Linked DNA regions of Homo sapiens. The protein of the gene in region 5 interacts with the protein of the main gene of each other region in a biochemical or structural test. Each region holds a gene or a part of one and is shown on either strand. Other genes may lie near its edges.

The links.
Region 1: the proteins of FRMPD3 (region 5) and CNTNAP2 interact in a test that uses a peptide from one of them, tested with the Homo sapiens proteins (one large-scale study listed by IntAct).
Region 2: the proteins of FRMPD3 (region 5) and SHROOM4 interact in a test that uses a peptide from one of them, tested with the Homo sapiens proteins (one large-scale study listed by IntAct).
Region 3: the proteins of FRMPD3 (region 5) and TNRC6A interact in a test that uses a peptide from one of them, tested with the Homo sapiens proteins (one large-scale study listed by IntAct).
Region 4: the proteins of FRMPD3 (region 5) and CLDN19 interact in a test that uses a peptide from one of them, tested with the Homo sapiens proteins (one large-scale study listed by IntAct).
Region 6: the proteins of FRMPD3 (region 5) and RAPGEF2 interact in a test that uses a peptide from one of them, tested with the Homo sapiens proteins (one large-scale study listed by IntAct).
Region 7: the proteins of FRMPD3 (region 5) and WWTR1 interact in a test that uses a peptide from one of them, tested with the Homo sapiens proteins (one large-scale study listed by IntAct).

The regions. Positions count from the first base shown.
Region 1 is NC_000007.14:146,122,547-146,127,117, reverse strand, and holds part of CNTNAP2 (contactin-associated protein-like 2 precursor), read right to left. Parts: intron 1-4,571. UniProt on the Homo sapiens protein: Required for gap junction formation. Required, with CNTNAP1, for radial and longitudinal organization of myelinated axons.
Region 2 is NC_000023.11:50,590,281-50,594,851, forward strand, and holds part of SHROOM4 (protein Shroom4), read right to left. Parts: 3' UTR 1-4,571. UniProt on the Homo sapiens protein: Probable regulator of cytoskeletal architecture that plays an important role in development. May regulate cellular and cytoskeletal architecture by modulating the spatial distribution of myosin II.
Region 3 is NC_000016.10:24,735,511-24,740,081, forward strand, and holds part of TNRC6A (trinucleotide repeat-containing gene 6A protein), read left to right. Parts: intron 1-4,571.
Region 4 is NC_000001.11:42,736,895-42,742,158, reverse strand, and holds the start of CLDN19 (claudin-19), read left to right. Parts: upstream 1-1,922; 5' UTR 1,923-2,095; coding exon 2,096-2,318; intron 2,319-3,573; coding exon 3,574-3,738; intron 3,739-3,845; coding exon 3,846-3,930; intron 3,931-5,264. UniProt on the Homo sapiens protein: Forms paracellular channels: coassembles with CLDN16 into tight junction strands with cation-selective channels through the strands, conveying epithelial permeability in a process known as paracellular tight junction permeability.
Region 5 is NC_000023.11:107,602,170-107,605,751, reverse strand, and holds the end of FRMPD3 (FERM and PDZ domain-containing protein 3), read right to left. Parts: coding exon 2,379-3,582; 3' UTR 501-2,378; downstream 1-500.
Region 6 is NC_000004.12:159,109,023-159,113,593, forward strand, and holds part of RAPGEF2 (rap guanine nucleotide exchange factor 2), read left to right. Parts: intron 1-4,571. UniProt on the Homo sapiens protein: Functions as a guanine nucleotide exchange factor (GEF), which activates Rap and Ras family of small GTPases by exchanging bound GDP for free GTP in a cAMP-dependent manner.
Region 7 is NC_000003.12:149,525,509-149,530,079, forward strand, and holds part of WWTR1 (WW domain-containing transcription regulator protein 1), read right to left. Parts: intron 2,462-4,571; coding exon 2,328-2,461; intron 618-2,327; coding exon 505-617; intron 1-504. UniProt on the Homo sapiens protein: Transcriptional coactivator which acts as a downstream regulatory target in the Hippo signaling pathway that plays a pivotal role in organ size control and tumor suppression by restricting proliferation and promoting apoptosis.

The DNA.
Region 1 (4,571 bases), on a different chromosome or scaffold from region 5:
GTATGGTCGGTTAGATTATAGGGTGCAAATGTTGGGTTAGGAGGAGACTAAATTTAAGAGACAGGGAAGAACTAGAGAAATGCAGTACTATAACAAGATTTGTGTTTTGGGAAAGTATTTCTGGCATAGATATAGATGATAAGCTAGAGGGGGAAGATTAGAATCCGGGAGACATACCAGGAGGCTACTAAATTAATGCCTGGAGGGAAATGCTGAAAATCTTAACTATAGAAGCTGTGATAGGAATGGAGAGCAGCGGATGGATACAAGAAATATTTAAGCATTAGGACTGGCAAATATTTTAAAGACAAATATTTTCCCACTGCCATGAAAGCAAAGGAAAAAGTTATTTTCTCAACAGCACTCTCAAGAAAAGCTTCATGGATTAGCTATTGTATGAAATGAATACTCAAAACTGTGCTTATAGATTAAACAATTACCATCTTTTAACTTTAGTAATAGCAATCATATTTACAGTTTTCGATACAGACTTCAACATTTCCTGAGAACTGATTTAAAGACAGCTTTTATGTATACCTGACAAAGCATTTTAAGAAATATTTTACATAGCTTTAAATAAATGTTTTCACTACATGACTATTACATGTATTTCAATAGTACTCAAATGATAGAACTACACTGCAAAAGTACCTTATTGTGAAGAAGAACAAAAATGACATATATATTATGATTTAATGTGCTACCATTGAAAGAGCTGCATTCCTCTCTTTATTTCAAATATATTTCTTTATTTTTTACCAATGTAATTTTTAAGTCTCCAGAACATATGACAGTGTCATCAAGGAATAAGTAAACAAAAAGATAGAAACATTATGCCAATAGGCTTTTTCCTTTATATACAAGCAATCAAGCCTTAAAATGTTGCCTAGATGTAAGCTGAAACTTCTTAGTTAGAGAACTTGAACACAGAGACAGCACTTCACTCTCAGCCAGCTATGCCACAGTGAAGAGCACTGGACCTGGAAATAGGCCAAGCTGGTGGCCCAGGGAAGTTACTTCTCCATGTGTCTCTGATTTTTTCATTTGCAAACTGAAGCATTGTTATAAGAAATAAATGACCTAGTACACATAAAGAGTAGTGCCTGATTTGAAAGGCTGGGAAGAAACATTTAATAAGAAGTCAACACAACAAATATTAGCTATTTACGTAATACAAGCAGAACGTTTTATAAGTATAATATGTACTGCTGCCTGGAGTTCTAGAAAAGGACACTCATTGATTGATGCTGAAAATGTAAATTGTTACAGAATTTGTGGAACTCAATCAGGCAACATTTATTAGCCAAAAACTAAACATCTTCTTTGATCAAGCATCCCTGTCTTTGGAATCAATTCCACAAAAATAACCCCCTCAGTATCTAGAATATTGGAATAAGGTTGTTTTTGTTTATGTTCTTAATGGTAGAAGCAATGTTAATACCCCACCACGGCACATTTTTATCTCTGACACGGTACTATTTTTGTCAACTGACACAATAAAATAGTTATTCTTTTTTTTTTTTTTTTTTTTTTTTTGGAGACGGAGTCTCGCTCTGCTCTGTCACCCAGGCTGGAGTGCAGTGGCGCGATCTCGGCTCACTGCAAGCTCCGCCTCCTGGGTTCACGCCATTCTCCTGCCTTAGCCTTCCAAGTAGCTGGGACTACAGGCGCCCGCCACAACGCCCGGCTAATTTTTTGTATTTTTAGTAGAGATGGGGTTTCACCGTGTTAGCCAGGATGTTCTCGATCTCCTGACCTCGTGATCCGCCTGTCTCAGCCTCCCAAAGTGCTGGGATTACAGGCGTGAGCCACCGCACCTGGCCAAAATAGTTATTCTTAATTCTGTACTGTGGACATACAAAAACACAATTAACTATGCTACTATTTCCTTTTAACTAGTCATAACTTAATAACTTAAATGCTTACGTTAAGATATATAAATAAAACTTACATATACTACAGAAGTGCATGAGGCATGATTAAATTTCATTTTTGGAAATTTCATTACTGCCATTGAAAATCTCTTCTACTATAAGTTAAGCATTCGTTTTAACATATTCTTTAGGGATGAGGACATTAACCAAGTGACTTAAATCATAAGTATACTTTATTAGCTGAAAAACTGCTGGTGGTGGCAATATATATAACTTGAGTAAAAAAGTAAAGTTTTATATTGAATACCAAATCTCATGGGATTATACGTGGCTGTCTGGCATATTGTGTGGAGAAAGATTCTATGGCCACATTCAAATCCACTGAGTAAAATACCATGAGAATTAGTAACATTAGTATTGATGGCAGCATCGAACTCATTGTGTTATTGTTGCTATGAATACATAGAAAAAAACACCCGAATCATGTTTTCTTCAGTTGGTTGGCATTAAAAACACTAAGCTAGTATAATAGTTTCATAATCTGAAAACCTGATAGTCATATTTTATAGTCCAGACATATTTTTATTTGAACCAAAAAATGTTTCAAATATGCTACGTAACAATTTACATTTTAAGTTAGAATTTATTAGCAATTAAGTAATTTAATGCATCATAGGCCATTATTTAACACGTACTTAATAAATTTTTAAAAATAAGACCCATAAAATATGCTATAATTTCACTATGTGACATAATTAGGCTGAAATTTTTTCATGTAGTTCTGTTTATAAATTTTTGACCAATGTCTGAAAAAGACATATATATATAGACAGTCTGTACTTATGTTACTTAATAATTTGGTTCCCATTAAGAGGTGACTGCTTAGAAAAAATCAGTTAACAGTGATAAAATTTAATCCACATGTGTTTTCTGTTAGTTCAAAATAACTACTTCAGTCTATGATATAGAAGTGACAATAAGCACTTTTTTTTTTAAATTTTACTTTAAGTTCTGGGATACATGTGCAGAACGTGAAGGTTTGTTACACAGGTATACATGTGCCATGGTGGTTTGCTGCACCCATCAACCCGTTATCTACATTAGGTATTTCTCCTAATGCTATCCCTCCCCTAGCCCTCCACCCCTCAACAGGCCCGGGTGTGTGATGTTCCCCTCCCTGTGCTGAGGTGTTCTCATTATTCAACTCCCACTTATGAGTGAGAACATGCAACGTTTGGTTTTGTGTTCCTGTGTTAGTTTGCTGACAACGATGGTTTCCAGCTTCATCCGTGTCCATGCAAAGAAATGAACTCGTCCTTTTTTATGGCTGCATAGTATTCCATGGTGTGTACTTGTCACATTTTCTTTGTCCAGTCTATTACTGATGGGCATTTGGGTTGGTTTCAAGCCTTTTCTATTAAAAATAGAAGCACCTTTAATTTTAAGACAATTTTCTTAGAGTTATTATTTTATTTGGCATATCATGGTATTTCACCACTTAACAGACTGTTTTTTTAACAATACAAACTGTGCCTATTATTTTTTTCATGTATTCCTTTCAAATAATACTATAATTGAACAGCATAGATGACATTATAACAGTAAATAAAAATTGTGAGTCCAGGCAAGATTTTCCTTTTCACATACTATTTCAATATGACATCTAATGCATAGAGGTGAACAAATCCTTCCTGAATTTAACTAAACTTTATGTAACTTGATTCCATCTTAGATGTTCCAGACAACACAGGTTTAGTAATTTTGACAGTGCGTATGCCAGTCACACCTCTATTGCCTGCCATTTTCTATGATTCACATTTCCAGATCACCATCCCAGTGCAGATGAAGAAGGTTGTGAATGTACTAGAAAAGGTAAGGAAAAACTTATATATGTTTGGGGAATTTTTCCTGGTAAAAGTATTCTCAGAATCTAATTTCACCTCTTTCCTAAACATAAAAACATTAAAGCATATATCACTATTTATGTTTATGAGGGTATTTCAAGCAAACCTAAATCACAAGGTAAATACAGAATACGGCCCCCAGGAGCTCCTCTGTATTTTTTCAACATTTTTACAGTATACCCAAAATATGTGATCTTCAGCAAGCAAATTCAGAGCCAACAACCACATCTTTATATCTAGATTTCCTACTATCAGGGGAGGCTTTAAAATCTGCAGTGTCATAAAAAATCAGTTACTTCAAGCTGTTATTATGAATAGCTACCTCCAAAGTGAACTAAAGAAGAGTTTAAGAAGATATTTTTCAAAACTTACAATTGAAGAAAGAATCAATTTTGTTTTCTAAGTGCAAATGCTTTGTTGGAAAGAATAATTGGCTTAAAACATTTAACCTTCAGGATTTTACAGAAGGATCATGATGTAACAGCCAACTAAAGGCATATATAATTTACTAAATAGTTACATGGACAGGATGAAATTGGATGTGTACTGGCTAAAGTTTGTAAATAGGCTGTATTTTAAATGGCAATGTTATTTACCACAGATAAAGAAACGGTATTCTAAGCATCTCTGTAAAATAATACCACGGATAGCACTGGGTAGGAATATGAATGAATGAATGAATGAATGGGAGAGTTTGGAAGTCCTAACCAGAGTAACACCAAATCTTCAACTCAATATCAATGGAAAAACCAAGTCTTATTCTTTACTAGTTTCTAAACTATGCAGAAATTAT
Region 2 (4,571 bases), about 57 Mb from region 5:
CAGTCACCCAGGCTGGAGTGCAGTGGCTCAATCTCTGCTCACTGCAAGCTCCGCCTCCTGGGTTCACGCCATTCTCCTGCCTCAGCCTCCCGACTAGCTGGGACTACAGGCACCTGCCACCATGCCCTGCTAATTTTTTTGTATTTTTTTTAGTAGAGATGGGGTTTCACCGTGTTAGCCAGGATGGTTGCGATCTCCTGACCTCCTGATCCGCCCGCCACGGCCTCCCAAAGTGCTGGGATTACAGGCGTGAGCCACCGCGCCTGGCCGAGACCAGATCCCTTTCTGTCTTTGCTGAGGACACAGCCACAAGGTAGCCATCTGCAAACCATAAAGTGGGCCCTCACAAGGCATTGAATCTGCTGGCATCTTGCTCTCAGATTTCCCAGTCTCCAGGACTGTGAGAAATAAATGTTATTTAAGACAATCAGTCTATGGTAGTATGTTATAGCAACCCAAGCATACTAAAACACATATTTTCTTTGAAGAAATGTCTATTACAATCTGTTAACCCATTTTTAATTGGTTATTTTTATCATTGAGTTGTAAGAGTCCTTTTCATATTTTGAAGTATCTGATATGCAAATATTTTCTCCTAATATTATGTTGCTTGTCTTTTCACTTTTTTATATGGTATATTTTTAGCACAAAAGTTTTTAATTTTGATTTACTCCAATTTATTTCTATTTCTTGTATCACTTGTGCAAATCGTCTTAACATTAGGAAGACTTATTACAATGTTTTCTTCTAAGAATTTTATAATTTTGACTCTTACATTCTATAATCCATTTTGAGTTGATTCTTGCATGTGATTTAAGGAAAACTTCATTTTTTCCCATGTAGATACCCAGTTGTCTCAGCATCATTTGTTAAAAAACTATTCTCTCCTCAATTTCTCTTGGGACCCTTGTTGAAATTAACTAACCATATACATGAGGATTTATTTCTGGACTCTCAATTTAATTCCATTTATTTATACACCTACCCTTGTGTCTGTACCACACTGTCTTGATTACTGTAGTTTTGCAGTAAGTTTTGAAGTTGGGATGTATGAGCCCTCCAACTGTTCTTTTTAAAGATTGTTTTGACTGTTCCAGGTCCCTTGTAATTCCATATGAATTTTAGAATCAGCTTGTAAACTTACACAAGGAAGCCACTGGAATTCTGATAAGCACTGGATTGAATCTGTAGATCAATTTGGGGCACATTTCATCTTAACAATACTAAGTCTTCCAATCCATGAACATGGAGTGTCTTTCCATTTATTTTGATCTTCTCTAATCTCTTTCAACAATGTTTTATAGTTTTCAGTGTAAAAGTTTCGCACTTCTTTTGTTAAATTATTCCTAAGTACTTTTTTCTTTTTGATGCTATTGTAAATGGAACTGTTTTCTTTCTTTCTTTCTTTCTTTCTTTTCTTTCTTTCTTTCTTTCTTTCTTTCTTTCTTTCTTTTTGAGACAAAGTCTCACTCTGTTGCCCAGGATGGAGTGCAGTGGTGTGGTCTCAGCTCACTGCAATCTCTGCCTTCCAGGTTCAAGCAATTCTCCTGCCTCAGCCTCCCGAGTAGCTGGGACTACTGGTGCGTGCCACCACACCTGGCTAATTTTTTGTATTTTTAGTAGAGATAGGGTTTCACCGTGTTAGCCAGGATGGTCTTGATCTCCTGACCTCGTGATCCACCTGCCTCGGCCTCCCAAAGTGCTGGGATTTCAGGCGTGAGCCACCATGCCCGGCCGGAACTGTTTTCTTAATAACATTTTCGGATTGTTCATTTGATCTTGTGTTTTAACCTTGTATCCTGCAACTTTCCTAAATTCATCCAGGCAGGTAGTTGTGAGCAACACGAGAAGAGCAAGAATATGCCTGGGATAAGGAAAAAATGAATTGAGTAGATCAGGACTATAATAATGGTTACCATGTACTGAATATGTTTTCAACAAGTCAGTACTTCCCATGCTGTAATATGTTCATGAATCTCCTGGAAATCTAGTTAAAATTCAGACTGCTATCACTGGGTTTGGGGTGGGCCTGGGATTCTGCCTAATAACTTCTTGGATTGTTAGTGGCTTTTATTTATTATTTTCAAGTTACAATAACTGCAAGCAAGATAATACTGTTCCCATTTTACAGATAAGAAAATGACCTCAGAAGTTGAGCTAGTAGCCCAGGTTCATTGAATAAGTGGCAGAACCAGGATTTGAACACAGTTCATTCTAATGCCAAAGCTGGACTCTTTCTACTCTACCACAATGGATATCTTGAGTAGAAGGAGGATAGTTGGAATGTGAACAGAATATGGATCACGAAAAAAGAAAGCTTTTCAATGTCAGAGTTGCTTCCTGGAATACATTTGAGTCTAATCTTTGAGGTTGCCTTGGAGAGCAGATCACCAAGGCCCTTGCTTTCCAGGGAGCTGAGCATGAAGGTGTGAGATTGGACTATCAGCTAGAAGTAAGATGAAAATACTAGACAGAATTCAAGATTGGAAGAAGTCTAGAAAGAATGGCTTACCTTCGATCAGGCTAGACTCCAGAACTAGACTCTGTATACTGCTTAGGTCTATACCTGAGATTACACCTATTGTTGACTTTTTCTGCATTCTAAACATGGGGTTAGACTGGATGTGATGTTGCCACTGAGTAACCAGAGAGGAAGAAATATATCAGTGAGCTAAAGGGCAGGGCTGTGATCCTGAGATCCTTCTGAGTAGAAAAATACCATGCTTCAATACTGTGATAACAACAGAAATAACCAATGGCTTAAACTCTGTACCCCCTACTCAGGATGGTCTTGAAATAGATGTCTAAAAGCTGTTCCCCTAAAAAGGCTATGGCAGATCCTGCTATTTAACTGGGGATGATGAATGGTATAGCATCAATACCATCCCTCAGAGGCCAGGGTAAGGGTTTAGGGATGTGGGTAAGGGTCTGGTCATATGTTTATCTGTGAAGGACTATGGATAGGTGACCAAATTCCTTTCCAGTACTTTTCAGCAGAATCTTTAGACTTCCATCACCTGAGTTAAAACACATGAGATTTTTTTTTGTCCTTAGCACCTTTTATTGAAATATGACCCTTGATGACAATCTGGCAGGCATATCTATGTCAGCCAAGAAGGGAGTGGTGGAGGACACAAATGCAGAAACAACAAGATTTGGAAAAAGAATAGCTTCACATGGGATAGATGACCCCCAACAGCTGTACAACCAACACTGGTTCTTCATCTATAGAAACTGTCCCCTGCCCCACCCCCCCAAAAAGATCTACTAATCTTCAAATAATATAATATGCTGTTGCAGAAATATTATTGGCATAGACGACTCCTCTGGCAAAGCTCCAAATGGGTGGAAGTGGCCAGAAATGGGCCCAGCTTCCTCCATCTGGGGCTTGCTACTGGCAGAGCAGCACTGTCAGGGAGGGTCGGGTTCAGGATGTGGCTCTGGTGTGCCTGGGCAGCTTTATGGCACATGAGGTTAAATGGAAAACAGAACCTGAACCTAACCTTGAAGGAGGCTTTTTATCTTTTCACCTCTCCTTTTCTTTGCTTCCAATTTCTTCCTTTCTAGGGCTTTATTTTCAGTGTCTCTGTCTTATTCTGTCAGATTCTACTTGGGCATTTACAGCTATATCCTGGTTGAGTCTCCAGCTGTGGGACTCAGGAAGATTCAATTATCCAGAGCCCTGGGAGGTGGCAGGAGGGGTTGGGGGGACATGTGATAGTAACTCATGCACTGACTTCTCTATCAGCCATCATGCTTGCCTATTACCCATGGGGGCCTGTATAAGTATTTGACGGGAGACAGCAGAAGTTAAGACTGATAACTGTCTTTGGGGATCTCCCTTGGCCTGCCTTCCAAACTGCTACTCACTGGCAGGCCTTGGAGGAGGGCTGAGCCCAGGAACTGAGAACAGGGGAGAGAGACTGCATCTCAAGTAATACTGGCAGTGTTGCAGCACCGTCACACACAATGAGACTGCCCTGGCAGGAGTGTGGCACGCCAGTGTCTGTTTAGCAGTTCACCTTTATCTACCAAGCTTCACTGCTAGATATACTTTTGGGGTTATTTTTTAAATGCTTTGGCAACTTTCCCTCCATGTGAAAATGAGCATCCTTGTGTTCTGATTCTAACTCTAGAAACTAATTTGAGATGGGATTAAGAACAAAAATAACAGAGTTAATAGTATTTTTGGTGTCATAAACTTAAGGTACAACCAATCACATGCTGACTAGAAAAACTCAAGACTATGGCCATAGTGTCCAGGTAAGTGACCGTTCTTTTCCCTAGGCCCATATTCCCAAAAAGGTGCTCTAGCCCACAAATTCTGAGAATGATGAAACATATCAGCCTCATCCTCCCAATACAGGACATCTCAATTTGCTCATTGTTTGTCCTAGAGCCTGCTCAGAAGAAAAGATGACAACTATGGCCTCCATTGAAAGCACTCCCCTACCTTCTCAATCTTGGCTGGCTTGTGTAAGCCTAGCCCCTGCAAGCCACCAGCCTTCCTGAATAAAGTAGAATCTTCCACTGGAGGGGAGAATGGCAGGGTTGCCATTCTAACAGTGTTT
Region 3 (4,571 bases), on a different chromosome or scaffold from region 5:
TTAATGTACCAACCCAATATGCTTTTTTTCCAGCTTAATTTGGCAATTAGGTGGTAAATCACTTGATAGGATAAATTAATCACAATCTGTAAACTTAATTTAAAAATGTGTAACAACCCTCTGTGGAAAATTTGAATATAAACATCAAAAGAATACCATTCTGTAAGCTCTTTTGATTTTTGGCATCTGAAATGTCTGAAAGTATAAATTGCAAAACATATTTACAATTTTAATGACAACTGCAAAAGTATTGCCCATGATTGGAAAGACTAAAATGGTATGCGTTATATGTATTCTGTTCAGGCTGATGCATGATAAATCTCTCACTGAAAAAACAGAAATCCCTATCTCATTTTAAAATTTTAAAAAATTGGCCGGGCACAGTGGCTCATGCCTGTAATCCCAGCACTTTGGGAGGCCGAGGTGGGCAGATCACTGGAGGTCAGGAGTTCAACACCAGCCTGACCAACATGGTGAAACCCCATCTTTACTAAAAATACCAAAATTAGCCTGGTGTGGTGGCACATGCCTGTAATCCCAGCTACTTGTGAGGGTGAGGGAGGAGAATCGCTTGAACCTGGGAGGCGAGGGTTGCAGTGAGCCGAAATTGCGCCATTGCACTCCAGCCTAGCCTGGGCACAAAAGCAAAACTCTGTCTCAAATAAATAATCAATCATTCTAACCTTAAGCAAAATTGGAAAAATGTTGCAACTAATACCTGTATCTCTTTACCTAGTTTTAGTGATTATTAATATTTTGCCACATTTGTTCTATCGTGACATTGCACACCAAAGTATGGCAGTAGGTATCTCACAGAATAAGGGCATTCTACCTGACAGCAATCAAATGATCACCCACAGGAAGTTTAACTTTACAATTCTGTCTGGTCCCTATTCAGATTTTCCCAATTTTCTCAAAATTTTTTTTAAAGTTGTATTTGTTCTTTCACTCAATTGCTGTATCCTGGGTTGCATTTAGTTGTGTCTGAAGTTTCTCTTACATTAGGAGCATTTTCCTGCCCTTTTCTGCTTCTCTCTTGACAATGACATTTTGAAATAGTCCAGTCTAGTTGTTTTTGCAGACTGAAATTTGCATTTTTTGGGTCTTGTCTGTATGATTAGGTTCAGGTTGACCCTTTTTGGCAGGAGTATCCCATAGGTGATGATGTGTTTGTCTTCAGTATTCCCTCCCCACAGCATTTTGAAGTAAATTAACCGAAAGGTTATCCAATATTCTTACTTCTACACTGACTTGGTGTTTCTTTCATTTTAGGAAATGCCAAACAATTGGTTTAAACCGAGATGTAATTTTAAATATTTGAGGTTACAGTAATTACAGGTCTTTGTATTTAAATCGATCAGCCATAATGATTACTGCTTTTATGAAGATTTATGCCAAAGGTAGCTCCCTTACTGTGGGACATAAAAGTTGCTTGTTTTCAGCTTTGACCAGTGATGAACTGATAACCCTGGTAGGAAAATGAAACATTGGGGCTGGGCTTGTAATACGCTTTCTTAAAAGAATGCCCCATTGAAATTAGAGTGGCACGGTGCCACCAGACCAAGGGTTCTCATCCCGATGCCACAGAGGGACCACAGGTGTTATGAAGTGGTTTGCAAAATTGAATGTATGCCAAAATAAAATAATAAAAATAAAAATAAAACCCCACAACAAAAGCAGATATGGTCTTTAGTGCTCATTAGATCTCAAAGGGTCATTACTCCTCAAAGATTAAGAAACTGCTTCTTTATGAGGAGGTTGTCAGAGGAGCTGAATAGTATCAATAAGAGGAAGATGTTTGAGATTCAAAAGGAAGTAATATTCGACTAAGGCATAGCTTCTTTCCATCTTAAAAAAAAGCCACCCATGAAAATAAATATAGTTTAAATTTCCTATTTAAGATGTCTTATTTTAAAAATGATTTGCATACTCTGTGTGTTTGAGTTGGCTATGAAGGAGAAATCCTAGCATTTCCACTCTTGTAACTAGGGAAAAGCATTTTGAATTTTTAGCAGTAGTATATTATGTGATGATGACTCAGCTGACTTCCCGTTTCAAATGGAATGTTCAAAACAGATTGAAACCTGGTTGAAGAATTTTATACTTTGAACCTTACAAGATATTTTCTGCAAACAGTGACTGATTGGATTTTGTATAATAACAAACAAGATTAAGCCAACTCAGTTGTTTTGCTGTTCTTATTAGTGGTTTTCAGTCAGGGAGCACTTATTGAGCAGTTTGCTGCAATAATATTGAATATTTTTAGAGTTATGACGTCTGTGTTTTGTTGACTTTGGTCCCTTCTTTCTCCCATTCTTTTGAAGTTTCCCTAAAACATGTGTGCACAGACGGGAGAGAATGGTAGTTAAGTGTGTGCTGATTTTAAATGTCCTTTTAAATATCATTTATTCCTTGATAATTGACTGTATAACTGATGTAAGAGAAATATGTTTTATATGTTATTCCACTTGTGAATCTCTTTGCAATGTGAGGCATATAGTGAAAATCTTACAAAGATAGGGTCATAAAATGTGCATTCTCTACACTGCTGCAGGTTAATCGTCCTCGAGCCACGTTTCTGAGGCCTGTCAGTCACTATTTCTTAGAAACCTTTGTTGGCTCCTTCCCAGTGACTCTGGAATTAAAGCCCAGACTCTTGTTTTTTGCTCAGCTTATCAATTTAGCACTGTCCCTTCCACCTTTTGCCCTGTCCCTAACTCTTCCTTCTCTGAATGTACCTTTCAGTTTCTCTCAACTTTTAAATAACAGCTTTATTCAGATAAAATTCCCATATGATAAAATTCACCCTTTTAAAGTCCACAAAGTGTATGATTTAATGGTTTTTAGTATATTCACAGAGTTGTGCAATCAGCACCACTGTCTAATTCTAGAATTTTCACCCCTTCACCCAAAAACCCCATAATAGCAGCCACTCCCCATTTGTCCCTTCCACCCAGCCTCTGGCAACCACTAATCTACTTTCTATTATAACTCTATGGACTTACCTATTTTCGTTTAAGTGGAATCATACTATATGATACTTTTGTACGTGACTTGTCTTATTTAGTGTAGTGTTTTCAAGGTTCGTCCATCATGTCGCATATATCCTTTATTCCTTTTTATGGGCAAATAAATTTCATTGTATGGCTATTGCCCATTTTGTTTGTCCGTTCATCAGTTAATGGGCATTTGGGCTGTTCTAACTTTGGGGCTATTATGAATAATATTGCTATGAACATTCATGTACAAATGTTTGTGTGGACATATATTTTCAATTCTATTGGTTATATACCTAGGGGTGGAATTGCTGGGTTATATGGTAACTTTGTTTAACTTTTGTTTGTGTTGTTTTGTTTTGTTTTTGAGACGGACTCCCTCTGTTGCCCAGGCTGACGTTCAGTGGTGCAATCTCAGCTCACTGCAACCTCCCACCTTCCAGGCTCAAGCCATCCTCTCACCACTGCCTCCCAGGTAGCTGGGACTGCAGGTGCATGCCACCACGCCTGGCTAATTTTTTCTATATTTTGTAGAGATGGGGTTTCACTGTGTTGCTCAGGCTCTGTTTAACTTTTTGAGGAACTGCCCGACTGTTTGCAAAGCAGCTGCACAGTTCTACATTCTCATCAGCAATGTATGGAGGCACTAGGTTCTCCACATCCTTTCCATTGCCAGCATTTGTTAGGGTTCTTGTTTCTGATTTTAGCCATCCTAATAGATGTAAAGTGGTATCTCATTATGGTTTTGATTTACATTTTCCTAATGGCTAATGATGATTAGCATCTTTTCATGTCCTTATTGGCCATTCGTATATCTGATCTGAGAAGTGGCCATTCAGATTCTTCTCCCATCTTTAAATTAGGTGATATTTTTTGTCATTGAAAAAGGTCTTTATATAGCTTAGATACAAGTCCCTTATTAGATATATGATTTACAGGTATTTTTTCCTATTTTGTGGCTTTTCCTTTCACTTTTTTTTTTTTTTTTTTGAGACAGAGTCTTGCTCTGTCGCCCAGGCTGGAGTGCAGTGGCATGATCTCAGCTCACTGCAAACTCCACCTGCCAGGTTCAAGCGTTTCTCCTCCCTCAGCCTCCTGAGTAGCTGGGATTACAGGCACCCACTACTATGCCCAACTAATTTTTGTATTTTTAATAGAGACAGAATTTCACCATGTTGGCCAGGCCAGCCTTGAACTCCTGACCTCAAATGATCCACCCGCCTCTGCCTCCCAAAGTGCTAGGATTACAGGCATGAGCCACCGCATGCAGCCTCTTTTCACTTTCTTGATGAAGTCCCTTGAGCACAAAAATTTAAAATTTTGTAAATCTAGTTTACCAGTATTTTTTTCTGTTACTTGTGTTGTTGGCAACAAATCCAAGGTCACAAAGATTTACTTGTATTCTAATAATTTTATAGTTTTAGTTCTTAATGTTTAGTTCTGTAATTCATTTTGAGTTAAGTTTTGCATATGGCATGAGGGCTCCAATGTCATTCTTGTTATGTAACTATCCAGTAATTCCAGCTTCATTTGTTGAAAAGACTTTCATCTTGGCACCCTGTTGAAGGTCACTTG
Region 4 (5,264 bases), on a different chromosome or scaffold from region 5:
CACCAGGCCCCTGCCCTCCCCAGACATCGCTTACTTTAACGGACCACCACAACTCCATGAAGCAAACCTCCCATTTAGAGTGAGGACCCTGAGGCACCACAGTCATTCAGGTCACCCCTGGGGAGCATCTTGTCACTGCCCGCAGCCCCCTTCAATCTGGACCTGGTGCCTCCCTCAAAAAGGGAGGAGTGTGGGAGAGAGACCACAGGGGCCAGCACCACACAGTTTCAAGCGGAAAGCCCTTCCTGCTGTTTCCTGGCTGGGGGTCTATTACCTCCCTCTGCCGTGGTCTCCTTACTGTTAGGAGGCCTGCTGCCTGCAACAGTGGCCCACATGCTTAAATTAATGCACTGGTCACAGGGTGCCCATTGCGGCCCCAGTAGGATGGAGGAGGCTCCCCTCAATCCTACTGTCTTGTCATTGTGGTAGAAGAATCTGAGCTCAGGACTTACTTCTCTGCCACTGTCCTAGACCCCATTTGGTCTTGGGACCCACAGGTCGTCCAGGAAGCAGGTCTGTGTGTGCTCGGATCCACGTGGCTCTGACCCTCCCAGCACAGAGAGCCTGAGGGTCCCAGTGTGCACCACCACAGGTCAAGCAGTGCCCACCCTTGACCCTCAGATGGCAGACCACTCCCCCATCTCTGGCCAGAGCTGCAGGCCATACCAGAGGCCTACGCCCTGGGCGGGCACACAGGGCTGCCATTGTCTGCTCAGCGCCTGGCACCCTCTCGTTTGCATAGCCACGTGAAGAATGCAAGAGCGGGCTGGGGACTTGTCCCTTCAGAGGGGGGTTGGGGCTGTGGGGGAGGAAGCCAGCAGGGGTCTGCAGCAGGACCCTGCCTTCCCCCAGTGCAGTCCAGGAAGGGTGGGTGGGCTGTTGGGGACGGAGGGGGCGGCGGGGGGCTGGCAGGAGTGGAAGCAGGGTTGTGACATTCCTTCTGCACCCACGCTGCAGTGGGGCCCACTTGAACGTGAGGGGATTGCTAATGAGGTGGAAGAGAGTTAAACATTCCCCTACTCCTGAAGACCAAGAGAGACTGGGAGAGAGAAGAGGGAGGTGGGGGTGCTCGGAGCGGGCAGCCTGAACCCCGGGAATGTGCAGAGGCCACTGCTCCGCGCCAGGCTGCTCTAGAGTTGGGGGCCAGGGCCCAGTGTTCCAGTCCCAGCAGGAGCTACTAAGCCAGCCAGCAAGGGGATTAAGGGGCTGAGCAATCCGCCTTCCTTCAGGCTGATGCCAGAAGGTTGGGGCTGTCTCCCCAGCTCCCCACCAGGCCCCTTGCTGGCCGGCAGCCAGCGCTGGCCCAGCCTCGATAGGGCCCCTTTTCTGTCCCCCTCAGATCTCAAAAAGACCCCACAGTACATATTTCCTGGTCTGGCCTCCCTGATTTTTGGCACACACAGCTCCCAGGTACCCATGACCCCTCTTCCCAACACCCCACCGCTAGCTCAGCCTCCCCACATCCAGCTTCAGAGCCCCTGCCAAAAAGTTATCCTTGACATCTAACTCTAGTTTTACCCGCTGCAAACTGGCATTCCTTTCCCTTCTGTCCTAAAGTCAAAGGGCAGAAAACCCCAAGGGTTAGATCAGCCTTGCAAGAGCAAAGTCCATCCTCCCAGGGCTGGTGTTTGGGTTAGGGATTATCCGAATTTTAGGACACCCGAATCAGGTTCCTAAAGGGGTTTCCCTGTGGGGAAAGGCCCAGAGGGCAGCTGGGTCATTCCTCTCAGCCCCTCCCTTCCCTATCCCTGCGGAACGGGGCGGGGCAGGGACACCACCTGGGCCATGGGCCGGCCCTCCGCCCCCAGGGGGCTGGGCATGAGCTTTGCTGGGGACCCTGCTCTGGCTTAGGCGGCTGCTGTGGGCGGGCCCTGGCCTTTTCCAGCCCCTGGGCCTCCCCCTGCATTCTGGAGTCCAGAGCCACTGCCTTTGCTCCAGCCGCTGCCGCCGCACCACCTCTCCTTCTCTGCCTCTGACCCTCCTTCTCGCTGCTCCCCCTGCCCAGCTGCTCCTCCCACCTGGCCATGACCAAAGCCCCTGCTGGCACCCTGGCCCAGCTCTGAGTCCTGGGACCCTCGGTCCTCTCTCCTGGGCCATGGCCAACTCAGGCCTCCAGCTCCTGGGCTACTTCTTGGCCCTGGGTGGCTGGGTGGGCATCATTGCTAGCACAGCCCTGCCACAGTGGAAGCAGTCTTCCTACGCAGGCGACGCCATCATCACTGCCGTGGGCCTCTATGAAGGGCTCTGGATGTCCTGCGCCTCCCAGAGCACTGGGCAAGTGCAGTGCAAGCTCTACGACTCGCTGCTCGCCCTGGACGGTAGGCCCCAGGCCGGCGGGGTGGGAGATGGGAGGTGGGAACAGCAGGGGAGTCTGGAGCAAGTTTTCCTCACAGTCTGCTATCTGCGCTGGGCTCCAACCTCCAGCCTCCGCTCTACAATTCCCCCACTACTGCCCTGTGCCCATTGACGGTCCAGGCCAGCCTGCTGCCCTGTGGGAGGGGAGGGCTCTAGGGTCTGGCGGCTGTGGGTCCAGATTCCTGCTCTGTCACTATAACTTTGAACTAGTCACCAAACCTCTTCCCATTGTGATGTTCTCATCTCTAAAGGGGAATACTAATACCTGTGGCACTCTGAAAGACTCAGTTAAGACCCTTCATCCACTTCTCCCCACAGTCAGTAGACAGACACACACTGTATGATGCACACCTGCTCCCTAGTCCTGCTCCCAGGCCTGTGTGCCAGCATATGGGTGCATGCACATGCATGCAAACACGCATGCACACGCACACACGTGCACATGCATGCACAGACAGGTGTGTCTGCATGCAGTCCCTCTCCTTCTGGGGTGTGGAGATGAGCCTGACAGGCACCGCCGAAGTTCTAACTCTGGGGTGGAGGTGATCCACCTGCAATCTGCCCAGGAGCCCCCAGGGACAATCTGCTCCCCATGGGAGCTGGGAGCAGAGCGGCCTTCAACCAGCCCCATTGTGCCAGTTCAGGCAGGTCAGTTCAGGCAGGTCATCTAGCCTCGCTGAGGGACCCAGGTCTCCTGAGCACCCCCCAGGGCCCAGGATGGACCCATGCACCCGTGAAGAGGCAAGCTTCCAGCTGCCATGGGCAGAGGGGAAAGTGACTGTTGTCTGAATGGCTGCTGGGGAGGGGTTGCTGCGGGGCTCAGGCTGAGTTGAGCTGGGCCTCAGATACCCCCAGCTCTTCCACCTACCAAACCTGAGGGGACCCTGGAGCTGCCCTCAGCTGCTTGGGAGGATGGGCCAAGCCCAAGAGGGAGTCCCCAGGCCAGAAAGCAACAGCAGAGTGAATCATACTACCGGAAAAGCCTGCAAGGGCGAGTGGAGAATGGCGTTGACAGTGAAGGGGACTCTCACCCCCACACCCTGTCCTCATGCCCGGGCTGTCACTCCTCACTATCCTGCACCTGCCAGAAGGTGGTCTGACCCCCCAGGCCAGCTCCTGCTCAAGCCCCTCTCAAGCTGGGCTCCTTCCACCGACCCCAGGCACCGACCCAACCCCCATCCCCGCCAGCCCGACTCAGTGTCATCCCGCCCACCCTAGGTCACATCCAATCAGCGCGGGCCCTGATGGTGGTGGCCGTGCTCCTGGGCTTCGTGGCCATGGTCCTCAGCGTAGTTGGCATGAAGTGTACGCGGGTGGGAGACAGCAACCCCATTGCCAAGGGCCGTGTTGCCATCGCCGGGGGAGCCCTCTTCATCCTGGCAGGTGAGTGCCCCTCACTCCTGCACAATCACAACCATGGCAGGCAGCCCCAGCCCCAGTGGCCTCGGGGGGCCAGAGCAGAGCTGAGCGCCCCTCTGCTTTGTCTTTAGGCCTCTGCACTTTGACTGCTGTCTCGTGGTATGCCACCCTGGTGACCCAGGAGTTCTTCAACCCAAGCACACCTGTCAATGCCAGGTGGGTGCCAGGGCTTGGGTCTTTTGCTTTACCTCCTCTGGGGCCACTGACCTTTGTCCACTGGATCACCTGGCGGGGGAAGTGGGGACAGGATCCAGCTGCTGTCCAAGAAGCTTTAAAGGGGGGCGCCAGGAGGAGTGTGGTGGGGCCCTCCATAGGGGCGGGAGGCCTGTGATGGGCACCCAGGTGCAGCAAGGACTCTCTAAGGACCTAAGTGCCCTGGCTCTGGGTTTCAATCCCAGCTCTGGCTGGGTGCAGTGGCTCACGCCTGTAATCCCAGCACTTTGGGAAGCCAAGATGGGTGGATCACCTGAGGTCAGGAGTTCAAGACCAGCCTGGCCAACATGGTGAAACCCCGTCTCTATTAAAAATACAAAAAATATCTGGGCATGGTGGCGGGCGCCTGTAATCTCAGCTACTCGGGAGGCAGAGGCAGGAGAATAGCTTGAACCCGGGAGGCAAAAGTTGCAATGAGCCGAGATTGCGCCACTGCACTCCAGTCTGGGTGACAGAGTGAGATTTTGTCTCAAAAAAATCAAACGATCAATCAATCCCAGCTTTGCATGCACTGTGTCACCTGGGCAAGTTACTTAATCTTTCTGTGCCTAGTTTCCTCCTCTGTGAAATGGAGCTAGAACCTGAGCACCAGTTCACACATGGTTGTCAGGATCCAGCAGGATGCAGGTGAGGGTGTGGCACCGTGCCCGGGCCCTGGACAGTACCCAGCAAGCCTGAGCTGTTTTCATTTCTGCTGGTGGCAGCAGGGCTGAGATGACTTCCTGCAGGAGGCAGCAGTTATTCTGGGCCAGGAAGAAACTTGAGAATAAGGGCAGATCGTGGAGGGCCTTGCAACCACAGGAAGATTTTGTTCCTCATTTGGGTGGAGGCAGCGGCAGTCCTTCTGGCTGTGATGTGCAGAATGGTGGGGAGGGAGTGACACCAGGAAGGCGGCTGTCCCAAAGGTCTGAGCAGAGAGTTTGGGGCAACAGGGAGGGAGCAGTGGAAAGCAGGCTGATATTCAGGAGATAACCAGGACTTGTAAGACTGTGGGCATGGGAACTGAAGGGGATGCTCTGCAAAGGGCCTGGGCCCACCTTGGCTCCTCCCTCACTTCTCAGCCTAGCCAGGAGCAGAGAATGGGACAGTCTTAACCCTAGACATCCCAATGGGCTTTGGGCCTTGGGGTGGAGAGAGGATGAGAAAAGATGTCTGGGCTTTTGCAATCGGGAGGGATGCCTGGAGGAGGCAGAGGTGTTGAGAGGCAAGGGGAGGGAGGAGATCTCAGGTACAAGGTTTGTTCCCTGGGTGGTGGCTGCAGCCACAAAGTCTGCCAA
Region 5 (3,582 bases):
GGCCAGAGGCTGTTGCAAGGGATTCCATAGCCTAAACTGCGAGGCAGTCAGGCTGCACTCTGAGAGCAAGAAGGCACAGTTCAGAGGGAGAGGCCCCATTTCCCAACCCCAGTCTGAGGAGTGGCCTAAAATCCTAATTCCCAGGCCATCTGATACACTAGGCACAGAGCACACTGTGTTTCTCCACACAACCCCCCACACCACCTCCAGCCCTTCAGCTCTGAGGTCACAGCCATGGGGGCCAGGTGAGCCAGAAGCCTCGTGGTCAAGAGAAAGAGGTAGACAATTTCCAACTCCCATGAGAAACAGTAGGCTTCAAAGAGGAGCAAAGGGGATCCCCTGTGTGTTGGGGAGGTGGGAGGAACAGGGTCCTTAGCTCTCATCACCCACCAGTGCCCAGTACATAAGAGCAGGGGCCCAGGATGAGCACACAAAGGGCCACCACCAACCAACAATTCAAGGACACAAGGACACCCACAAAGAGGCACCGCAAAGACTTATTGGGATAGTAAGATGAATAGATTTAATCATTCTTGTTTGAAAAACAAGACATAAATTAGTATATATATAATTTATATATTTTATGTAGTATATATACTATATACAGACATTAGAAAATGTTTCCTCTCCATGAGGCTGAGGGAGAGGTGAAGGATGGCGGTGGAATGACACAGGCAGGGGCTGAGTGGCGAAGTTGGGAGAAAAAGAAGACCATATCAGCACTCCAGCTTGCAGTGGCTGAGGGGAAAAGGATTCCCCACTGGCTGCATCTCTGGCCCATTCAACAACTTGGTCCTGGGGGAGGAGAAGCAAGGAAGTGAGGGGCTGGATTCTGCAGAAGAAACTCCCCTCCTCCTTGCCGGGAGAACTCACCACTCAGGGAGACTTTATTGCACTAGGGGCTACCAAGGATGGGCAGGGATTAAGCACAGTGTACATCTTTATAAAACTCACATCAGAATGAAAGATTTCACATGGGCCTCTGACACAGTGATGAAACAGAGGCAGACACAGGGCACAAGGGTGTGGGAAATGGGGAGATATGGAGAGGCGGACGAGAAGCAATCTATACAGAAGAAACATTGGCTTTCTTTGTTCCCTACAGTGGGACAGTTGGTAGGGACTCCGTGTCTTCACTCCCAGGAAGGTTGCGGGGGTGGGGGGCGTGGGGGGAGGGTTGGCAGCGGTGGTGGCGGTGGTGGTGGCAGCGGTGGTGGCAATAGGAGGTGTGTGTCAAGGTGGATGTTAAACAGTGTGAATTCCCTTCCAGATGGCTCCAGAGAGGGAGAAAGGTGCAGGACTGCACCGGGTAAGGCGCTCAGCTTCTTTTCTTAGAGAGACAAATCCACAGGGTCAATACACAGCCAAAAGCATATACTCAGGATTAACATATCACGCTAGCTTCCAGAAGTTTAAGATATAGTCATCAACACCCCCCACCCCTACCCCTTTCCCCCCTCCCCCCACCCCCCTCCCCGATCCACAGCTAAGTCAAACTCCCAAGGACAGTCTGTCTGGTAGAGAGATGTTGAGAGAGAAGCCTCATGCCTGCAGCAACAGCCCCTGAGCTGGGCTGGGCCGGGCTAGGCGGGCTCCTAGGCCTGCACTGGGTCTCCCCAGGCAGACGTTTTCATCAGGTACCTTACCCAAAATGAGTGGGGTGATCCCAGATGCTTGCTCCCTAGTGGACTGAGCTGCCCTGCCCATCAGTGAGGGGCAGGGCACTTTGGGGATGGCTGGTGTGGAGCTACTGGACCTGGAGGTGAGGGCTCACCAGGCTGCCGGCCAGTTGGGCCGCTGCAAACAGCCTAGTGTGGCTGTTTTCTGCAGACATCTCACCCAGGCACAGGCCCTCAGGGTGGCATCTACCAGGTGAGTGTGAGCCCAAGGTGGATGGGGACATCTGGACTGAGCGCCCTCTCCCCTCGGCACGGCAATGTGGCCTGCTGCTACTGCCACTGCTCCCAGCAGGGGAGCCGATGCCACGAGGAGCTCAAAGCCTGAGGGTCCGCTTGCTTCAGGCCCTGGCTCCCCCAGCGCCCAACACGGATTGAGCAGGAAGTGAGCCTGATGTCACCTCTCAGCCCCAGAGAAGAGATAAAATACAGCTCTGCTGTGAGCAGAGTGAAGAGGGGCCTTTGCCCTCACAGTGAGGCCCAGAGGCCAGGGAAGGGGTGAGGACACCCAGGGCGGCAGCTAAGCCTGCAGCCCTTAAGAGAGAGCCTCAATCAAGAGAGTTTCCACTCCCCGGAGACTGATGGGCTCTTGGACCCTGACTGGCCCAGCAGACACACACACACTCACCACAAGATGCAAGGACCACAAAGCTCAAACCTGGGGCCATGGTTGGGGAAGGGGGACAGGTGTGGGCAGATGCCCTACTTAATAAGGGTTTTTAAGGAGTGGGTGAATGTGCTCATAACAGTCGCCGAAGTTGGGGAGCCTGGTGGATGCTCTGTGGCTGCCCCTGCAGCTGCTGCCACCTGCTGCTGCTGCTGCTGCTGTTGTTGTTGCTGCTGCTGTTGTTGTTGCTGCTGCTGCTGTTGTTGTTGCTGCTGCTGCTGGTTAAGGTTACGGGCTGTGGACTCCTCAGCTGCACGCAGCAGGAAGGTGTAGTTCCTCACCACCTCTTCTACCTTGGCCAGCAGCTCTTGGCGCTGGGCCTCGGAGCGCACAATGAACACCAGCCGCACGAAGGTCTCAATGAGGCTGCTCAGCACCTGGAAGCTGCCCGTGATGGCTGCCAGCATGTGAGTTGGGCTCTTGTCCACATTGGCCACACGGCGGCAGGAGGCCCGGAGCTCCTTGAACTTGAGAGCTAGCTCAAGCTTATACTCGGAGATCTGAGACACATAGGGCTTGGGGGCACGGGCCTCGGGGCTGGCCACACACTGCCGCAGGACTGTCAGCAGCTCGTTGGTGTCCAGCCGGGCAGCCAGGAAGCCATCAGGGAGGCCATAGGCATGGGCCCGCAGGGCATTGATCTTGGCCAGGCTCCCCTCGAAGGTGGACACACGGAGGTCAATCTCCTGAGTGCGGGAGGCCTCAGGGCTGCTGCTGCTGCAGGTAGCAGCATCCAGCACCTGCAGGGTCCTGCTCACCACAGGCACCACCTGCTCGTCCAGCTTCATGCCAGGCAGGATCTTCATGGGGATAGAGTAGGAGAGCTCATCCTTGCCATCACTGGCATCATCTGCCATGTCACACTTGCGGTAGTAGAAGCAGTAGCGGATGGAGCAGCACTTGCTGCTCTCACTGTCCTCGTCTAGCTCGGCAGGCTTCCGGTACACCTCCTCGGGCAGTGAGAACACGGCCATCTGTCTGGGGCCTTTGGTCTCTGGGGCAACCTGGACGTAGGAGGGGTCTCCCAGCGTCGGTGACTCCAGAGACCTGCTTTTGGGACCCAAGGCTATGGGGAGGCTTGCCTCTACCTCCTTGGCCTCCCTGGGCAGCATGCCCAGGGGAGGATGTGGGTAGACATCCGAGGTCAGCGAGGCCCTGTCACCCTGGTCCAGCTCACTGATACTGTAGCGGCGCATCAGTTTCCTGTAATTGGGAGCTCCCAGACACTCGCCCCCCGAG
Region 6 (4,571 bases), on a different chromosome or scaffold from region 5:
GGTGATAATTTGAAATTCAAGTTGCATAAAATTATAATGGGATGCGCCTCAGATATAAATGGACTATCCGAAATAATGATATGATAACCTTCTAGAAATAAAAACTCTGATTTTGCTTGATTCATATGAAAACTTAATGAGAAAAAAAGTATTCCTTCTTTGTAAATTTTATATGGAAGTAACTTTGGCCAGGAGTGGTGACACATACCTGTAATCCCAGCACTTTGGGAGGCTGAGGTGGGAGGATCTCTTGAAGCCCAGGTGTTCAAGACCAGCCTGGGCATCATAGCAAGGCCCCGTTTCTATTTAAAAGAAAGGTAAATTTGATTTAGACTTAGGAGATATGGAAACCACTGAAAATCGTTGGTCCTTGATAATCCGTATTTTATGGGGTATTCCTTCTCTTCACTCCATTTTTGGTAACAATTTCCTCGTCGGTAAAATGGATAATAGCTGTCTGAGGTTTTGTGGATTAAGTGAAAGTACATTATTTAGTGTAATGCCTAATGTTAGTCCTCTTTATAGCATATTTTATACAATTTCTATTATTTAACAGGCCTTGGGAATTCAAAGATGAAATGTGTGTCCCTCAAGTAACTCACTAATCTATTGTTATAAGTAGATTGTAATTCATGAGTGCTGTAACAGCTATCCTATGACAGCACTGAAGAGGATGTGGACTTCCTAGATGAATATGTATTGAGTTGTAGGGGAGTAAGAATTCACCTACCAGTGAACTAGTGGACCTGAAGTGGTATTCCAGATTGACCTACTGTCATATGAGTAGCACACCTGGTAAGACAACATGTGCAGCTCTTTGTTCAGTGTGCTGGGAACCAGGGGACTGAGGAGGGGGTAAGGAATGATTACTGGCATTTAGAAGCTCATGGTTTGTGAGGGTAGTGAGGAGACCAAGAGTTCTGTTAAAGACTGATGTTCATTTTCCTGGCTTGAGATGGCTGGGAAGCTGAATTACACAGTGGTGATGGATTAGAAATATTGCAGGAGTAGAATCTGCTGGACAGGCTGGCTGAATGTGTGCACGTTTTATATCTCATTATAGTAAAACTGTGTTTGAATCATACCAGTGCAGCCTAATTATGGCACAGGATGATCATGGATATTTCATAGTTCATAGGAAAAAATCCAAGTTGTTGAATATAGTTTTCTTGATTTTTAAGGTTTCTCACACTATTTTTTTCCCTTAAACATTAATGTCTTCTACTACATGTACATTCTGGGAATCTAGTTTGAAATATCTGGTTAATCATATAGTTAAACTAGGCCAGGTGCTGTGGCTCATGCCTCTAATCCTAGCACTTTAGGAGGCTGAGGCGGGTGGATCACTTGAGGTCAGGAGTTCAACACCAGCCTGGCCAACATAGTGAAACCCTATCTCTACTAAAAATACAAAAAATTAGCCAGGTGCCTGTATTCCCAGCTACTCGGGGAGACTGAGACAGGAGAATCACTTGAACCCTGGAGGCAGAGGTTGCAGTGAGCCGAGATTGTGCCATTGCACTCCAGCCTGGGTAACAAGAGCGAAACCCCATCTCAAAAAAACAAAACCCAAAACACCATCATGTAGTTGTACTAAATATATTTCTTAATCTGTAATGATAATGTGATTTCCAAGCATTTCATCATTTGGAAGAGTTGGAGAACTTCTGAATTTAAGCAGGCAAAAATGAACTTATTTATATAAAAACTCAAAATTGACTTGTGACGACACAATGTAATGATGGCATTGAGTCTTTGAGAACAGTTTTTTACTCCTTTATACCATTTTTTGTTTAGATAAATTAATTGATGTTGGTAAATTAGGAGAAGCAATCTGTAGTACATATAATTGATCTTGTAACTTTATCAGAGCTAGAATATATATTTATGTATTTATATAGTTAAAACTATGTTCAAGTGATTATGTCAGTCATTGTAGGAAGAAAAATAAGTTTATTGCCGCATTATTTTGACTTCTAGAATTTTTATCTTTTCAGGAAAAAAAAAAACCACCCTTGTTTTCACATGCAAAATCGCCACTACCTACTGAATTTTAAGAAGCGTGTGTTTCTTGCTGTATTCAGCTGTTTCCTTTTTCCCTCCAGTCTGTGAAAGAATTTACCCTTGGTGCGGTGGTGGTGGGTTTATTGGTTTTTGTGGAGGAAACAACTTGGTCCTTGGATTTTAAGTTGTCCTGGCTCCACCTCTTCTGTGCTTTCATATCCATTATGTATAAGAAGTGTTTTGGGAGAGTTAGTGTCAGTGACTTGAAGAGGAACTTTGTTTTGTCATTGGAACTAAACTTGTCTTCCGCTGGCTGTTGTTTCTCATTGCTTGCCTTCCACAGGTTGAAAATAATGGACTGTGGAGCTTTAGAATTAAAATAAGTGAATAAAAATGTACATTTCGCTGCCATTTGCAGTTTAGTTGACAAACCGACACAGTGTAATATCTGCCCCTTGGCACCTTTCTGTTCTTCTCTAGCTCATGGTATTTGTTTTCACCCAACATAAAAACGGAGAAGAAAGGTAGAGAACACTGAACGAGAATTAATCATTAGGTCATTCTGGGGAGGTCTGATAGTAACTTTCTTAGAAGCCAACAATCAGTGGATCTGAGAGGTTTATGGTACTATGGTGATTATCTGATTTCTCCTGAAAATTCATTCTAGAGTTAAGACTCATTATCTTTTAAAATGTATTTTATTTTTTAATGACCAGTCTTCAGTGGAATCATTATCTTTCTTAAACTTTTTAGCTTAAGATAAATGTAGATTCACATACAATTGTAGGAAATAATGGGGAGAGATCCTGTGTGTACCCTTTAACCGGTTTCTCCCATTAGTAATAGCTTATAAAACTGTAGTGTAATATCACAATCAGGATATTGACATCAGTGCAATCAAGAAACAAAGCAATTCCAGCACCACAAATGGTTCTTGTTGGACTTTTATAGCCACAGTCACTCCCCCACCCCACCTCTGGGGATCACTAATCTGTTCCATTTCTATAACTTTGTCATTTCAAAAATGTTATTAATTGGAATCGTACAGTATATGGCCTTTGGAGATTGACTCCCCTCCCCCTGCGCAGCATCATTAAGGCTTATTACCTTTTGGTTAAAATGAATTTCTGTTGTTAGTGAATAGTTTGGCCTTGTGCTTCTAAAATACCAATAATGTCTGAGGATTGGGGGGTTGGTGGTAAAAGGTGAGATGGGTTTAATAGTGACAATGAAGAGAAAGTTCTGTGATAATGCGTATAAATATAGAGCAAAGAGCATAAGGTCTTGGATGAGCAAGAGTTGTGATAGCATACCACATTTGGGAGATTTTGATATATGTATTTCCTTTTCATATTTTTTTTTTGTCATAATGGAAGTAGTAAGGTTAGCCTTAGCCTTCATATTCTCCAACTGAAATTTAAAAAATAAAATCAGAAGGAAGTCTAATGACTGTATATACAAAAGGGAGTCCCAATGGCCAAATTTGGGACAGTTTGAGAAGCAAATCATGACAGTAACGGACTATAACCCCTAGGGAAGAAAGTATCCATGAGCCCATACTGATATAAGTAAGTAGTTGAATAAATAAATAAAAGCAGGAGAAGAGACACCTCTTTGTTATAGAATTCTAATTAGAAAATGAAGGAATGATGGAAATAGAAAATCACCAGCAGGTAAACACCATAGTAGCAATTGTTACAGGCAGGAATCATCAATGGATGCCAAAATTAGTGGGTGAAGGTATGATGAAAAATATCATCATAGATCAGTATCATCAGGATATTTGCATAGTCTCAAAATATCTCCCCCACAAAATTAATTAACTATAAAGGAAAAAATCAATACTTAATAGTGAAGAAAACTGGTAATATCAAATTAACCAGATCATCAAAGTTAATATCATTAGTAATAAGACATGTCAACATCATGTGTCTGCTGATATAATGTATTGAGAAAGAGATATCTCTGGTATTCTTAACTAAAAATCAACCTAAGTGGAGCAAATATCAGATAGACTCAAATTTAAGGACATTTTACAAAATAACTGGCCAGTATTCCCTGAAAGTATTGAGGGTGTGGAAGATGAAGAAATGCCCAAGAACTGCCACACATTGGAAGAAACTAAGGACATGTGATAACCAAATGTAATGTAGGATTCTGGAATTGATCCTGGACAAGAACAACAACAAAAAAACATTATTAGGATGACTGATGAAATTTGAATATTTAGATAACTTTACCACAATTATTGTAGATGCTAAATTACGGGAAGCTGGGTAAACAGGGGATCTTTGACCCGTTTTTTAAATAACCTTTTTTACTCTAAAATTATTTAAAAATTCAAAGTTAAAAAAAGGAAGCATAGCTTTTGAAGTTTTTTTTGTGAACCTGAAAAGGGGATACCAAATTATTACTTTTTAAGACATCTTTTAGGCTGGGCATGGTGGCTCACTCCTGTAATCCCTGCACTTTGGAAGACTGAGGCGGGTGGATCACCTGAAGTCGGGAATTCGAGTTGAGCCTGGCCAACATGGCGAAACCCCTTCTCTACTACATATACAAAAAAT
Region 7 (4,571 bases), on a different chromosome or scaffold from region 5:
ATCTATGAGGAAGGGGCTACAGTTTATTAATAGTGCCTGGGGGTTCAGTGGCTTTTCAGCTGTTATTTTATGTTGTCGTTGAGATTGAGTGTTTCTGGTTGGATTTTAAAATTGAGATGACCGTACTCGCTCTGGCAGCACCTATACTAAAACTGGAATGATTAGCATGGCCCCTGCATGAGAATGACATGTAAATTCATGAAGCATTCCATTTTTTTTTTTTTCAACATTTTTACAGACACTCGGGACTACTGGGAGTGGGGAGGAACAAGGGGTGAAAAACAAACTATTGGGTACTATGCTCACTACCTGGGTGACGAGAGCAATCGTATCCCAAACCCCGGCATCACATAACCATGTAGCAAACCTGCACATGTACCCCCAAATATAAAATAAAAGTTGAAATTATAAAAATAAAATAAAAGAAAAATAAAATTGAGATAACCGAAGAGATCATTTAAAAAACACAAACCCATTGTAAGTGCTTGCAGGCTTTGCTCCTACCTGTATCCATCTCATCCACATTGCTGAGGAAGTCCTCCGGAGTTGTGGGGACACTGTAGCACCCTAACCCCAGGCCACTGTCAGTGCTCTGCTCCCTCGAATGATATGGCCCTCTGCAAAGCAAAAGATGAAGAAACTTCAATATGAGCCCACTAAATAAATCTCAAAATTAAAACACAGTCACAAAAGCTCTAAACTAGTGCAGTTGTGCCATGCTGCCCAACTTTCCAGGTTAGGGAGGAAGGAAAGTTTTAATTTTGAAATACATACCCTCATGAAAATGAAAATAATCATGTGTGGCCATTCACAGTAAATTGACATTGATTTCCTTTTCACCTCAAAATAACCATTTGAACATTCTTCAACATACAGAGTATGACACCATTTATGTAAAACTTTAAAAAAAAAAAACAAAAACTATGTTGAATATTGCTTATGGATACATACACTAACGGGCAGTAAGGGGTATAAAAGTCTGTGTGATGGACACACGCCAGTTTCTGAATAGTGGCTACCACTGGGGACAGAAGGGAAAAGAAACGAGATTTCAGTGGTGGGGGGATGGCTTCAAATATTAATTGTAATATTTTATTTGTTAAAAAGTAAGATTAAATAAAACTATGGCAAATCTGGGTAGTGGGTACATGGGTAATTCATGTTATTCTTTGTACTTCTCTGTGTTTCAAATACTTTAAAATCAACAATTTAAAACCTCCATTAATTATTATTTCAGCTACTATTTGTTTTTATCTCTATCTTTAATAATGTTCATAATTGTATTGTTTGTTTGCCAGACGTCTCTGCAAGGGCAGAATAAAAGGCACAGGAAATACAGAATTGCCCTTTTTATTTGATTTAAAAACTACTTCTGCTCATGAAGATATTTCTGGCTAAATTCTCTTTCCCTTTTGCTCCTTTGTTTTAATTACTTTTTAAATTGTGAAATTATTTTAAACTCACATAGAAGACGCAACAAGAGTACAGAGCGTTCCCATGTACCCTTCACCAGCTTCCCCAGTGATAACATCTTACATAACCATAGTGCAATTACCAAAATCAGAAATCTGACACTGTAGAATATTATTTACTAAACTATAGATCTTATTCACATTTCACCCTGAACATCATCTCTTTTCTTTTCTTTCTTTTTTTTTTTTTTGAGATGGAGTTTCACTCTTGTTGCCAAGGCTGGAGTGCAATGGTGCAATCTCGGCTCACTGCAACCTCCGCCTCCCAGGTTCAAGCAATTCTCAGCCTCCCGAGTAGCTGGGATTACAGGCATGCACCACCATGCCCTGCTAATTTTGTATTTTTAGAAGAGACAGGGTTTCTCCATGTTGGTCAGGCTGGTCTCGAACTCCCAACCTCAGGTGATCTGCCCACCTCGGCCTCCCAAAGTGCTGGGATTATAGGCATGAGCCACCATGCCTGGCCGAACATAATCTCTTAATTGTTCTGTTCTCAATTTGCCATATGGCATGCTTTTATCCCCTGTTGGTTACATAAAACCAGAAGATTCTTCCAAGTATAAGTACTAGACGACACCATCATGTTTAAAAATATAAGTTCATGCCCATTTTCAAATTCTTGACTAGGGGTTTACTCTACGTCCTATCACCAATTTTTTAATTTGGAAATTTTTTAACAGGCAGATGATTTCCCCTGCTTTTCTTTTTTCTGCCAGCTCCTCCCACTTCCTCCCTTTATTCTCACCCTCAACCCTCAAGCTCCCCACCTCTTCCCAATGTAAACAAAGATCCTATTATAGTCTAGATCACATAATAAAGAGAATAAAAATAAGTGGCCCCCAAATATTAACTTACCCATTGAGGAAAGGATCTGAGCTATTATTAGTGATGGATCTCATGTCTGGGGTCATCGTGGGTGGGTTGACAGCAGCCTGAACTGGGGCAAGAGTCTCAGCTTCCATGGGGAGCTGTCGACAGAGGGCAGCTTCCTACAGTCAGAATGGGAAGCAAGAGTCATGCACTCATTGTCACAAGGCATGGAGCAAAGTGTACTTCACATCAAAACTTTTCACCAAATACAAAGCACTGTGTATTTACTCCCAGCAAGTCAAAATCACCAGGCAACCATTAGTATTCTTTCTCCGAAGAAAGTCTTACAGACATAAGTCACTTCACATTCACAAAGTTAATGGGAAGCTCAGCTATTATTTGATCTAAGGGCACTTAATGTTGCAATCATCCCACCCATGCAATTATTTAAACACCCAAATCATAGAAAGCCCTCTCAAAACACTTTGTCAGAGACAAGGCTTTTTCTATCTCAGGTTCTCAAACCAAATCTACATCAATCAAAGCAATCAGACTCCTCTGGACTATAAAGTACATTCTGGTCTTTGCCACTTACAGGCCAGTAAAACTGTGGAATTACAGAGTCCAGGCTCTACATTAAATTGCATCTGGCAGTTTTATGTTTACAGACAGGAAAGCAAAACAATGAGTTGAAAGTTTACTTTAAAAAGTCAATCAGTGGCCAGGGGTGGTGGCTCACGTCCATAATCCCAGCACTTTGGGAGGTCGAGGTGGGCGGATCACTGGAGCCCACAAGTTCGAGACCAGCCTGCAACATGGTGAAACCCTGTCTCTACAAAAAATACAAAAATTAGTTGGGTGTGGTGCTACTTGGGAGGCTGAGGCAGGAGGAGCCCTGTGCCTGGGAGGTTGAGACTAAAGTGAGCAGAGATCACGACACTGTACTCCAGCCTGGGTGACAGAGTGAGACGCTGTCTCAAAAAAAACAAAAAAACAAAAAAGTCAATCTATTTGACTACTTTGTTGACTAAAATGCTGAAGGTTGGGGAACCATGTAGATCCAATCCAAATCCCACAGACAAGTAACTGTTTCACAGCATATGGATTTCATTAGCAGAAACAAATAATACAAGCATTATTTTATAAAAGCTAGCATTACATTGCTAAGAAGAGTCTATCCAAAAGGCTACAAATTTACTGACTGCAACTACTTTCTCTAGGTATAATCTCCAGGAGTCTCTCCATCTTGACAAACATAACCAGACATCAAATTCCTTTCAAATTTGCTGATGTTTCCAGAGAATACTTTTGTATGTTTACATTTGCATCCCAAACCAAGGTTAGGCCTTTCCCCATATTTATGCCTATCAGTTTCCCACTTTCCATGCTGAAGTCATTGGTCTCACTGTCCCTCAAACCCTAAAACCATGGCTACAATGGCAAACAGAACATTTAGGACTTCTAAATTACAGTATCTTCGTTAGATCTCTTCCAGCCCTAACATGATGTGACTTTAGAGGGTAGCTGCTGTCTAGACAAGTCCTAGTGAAGTCATCGGCTATAAAAATTTTCAGTTACTAGAGTTGGTTGCACTGTTACAAACCATGAGAGACCTGATTGATTTAAAAAAAAACTGTATTGTTAACTTATACTGAAATAAATCTAGCTGGAAAGGGTCTTTGGCTCACTTCTGTTCATCTAGATTGCAAATAATCAAATACTTAACTAACAAATTTTATTCAGGAATCTACAAAAAGCAAACCAAAAACTGGAGATTTTTTTGGTAAAAAGTGATTTTCATCATCTAAATCTTGGAAGTGCCTTCTGAATAAACCTAGAAAAATCAAATTATTTTCTGATAGTTGTTTTTAACATGGCAGGCAGGGTGCATTAGAAACCTTATTATCCAACCAAAGTTTTCCTGAAAGCCTCAGAAGGAACAACAGGGATTGAATCTGGCATAAAAAGCCTGAGTCCCACCAGTCCCCATCCCTCAAGCACACTCATACACCCTGAGCCACAGTTTGAAAAAATGTATCTCATCAATGGTAAATTTCTAATACTTTATTAACCATAAATGCAAGAATCTTTTGACTCATAACCCTCATTATCCAAAAACATGAACTTTACTAGAATATTCCATTTTTCAACCATTCTGAATAAATGTGGGAGTTTACCTCTAAACAAATACACTTTTAATTTAAAAGTTGATGAGATGGCTGCATTCCTTTGTATTGAAAAAACTTTATCAACATATGTCTTAAGAATACAAGTTGAGGCCGGGCGGTG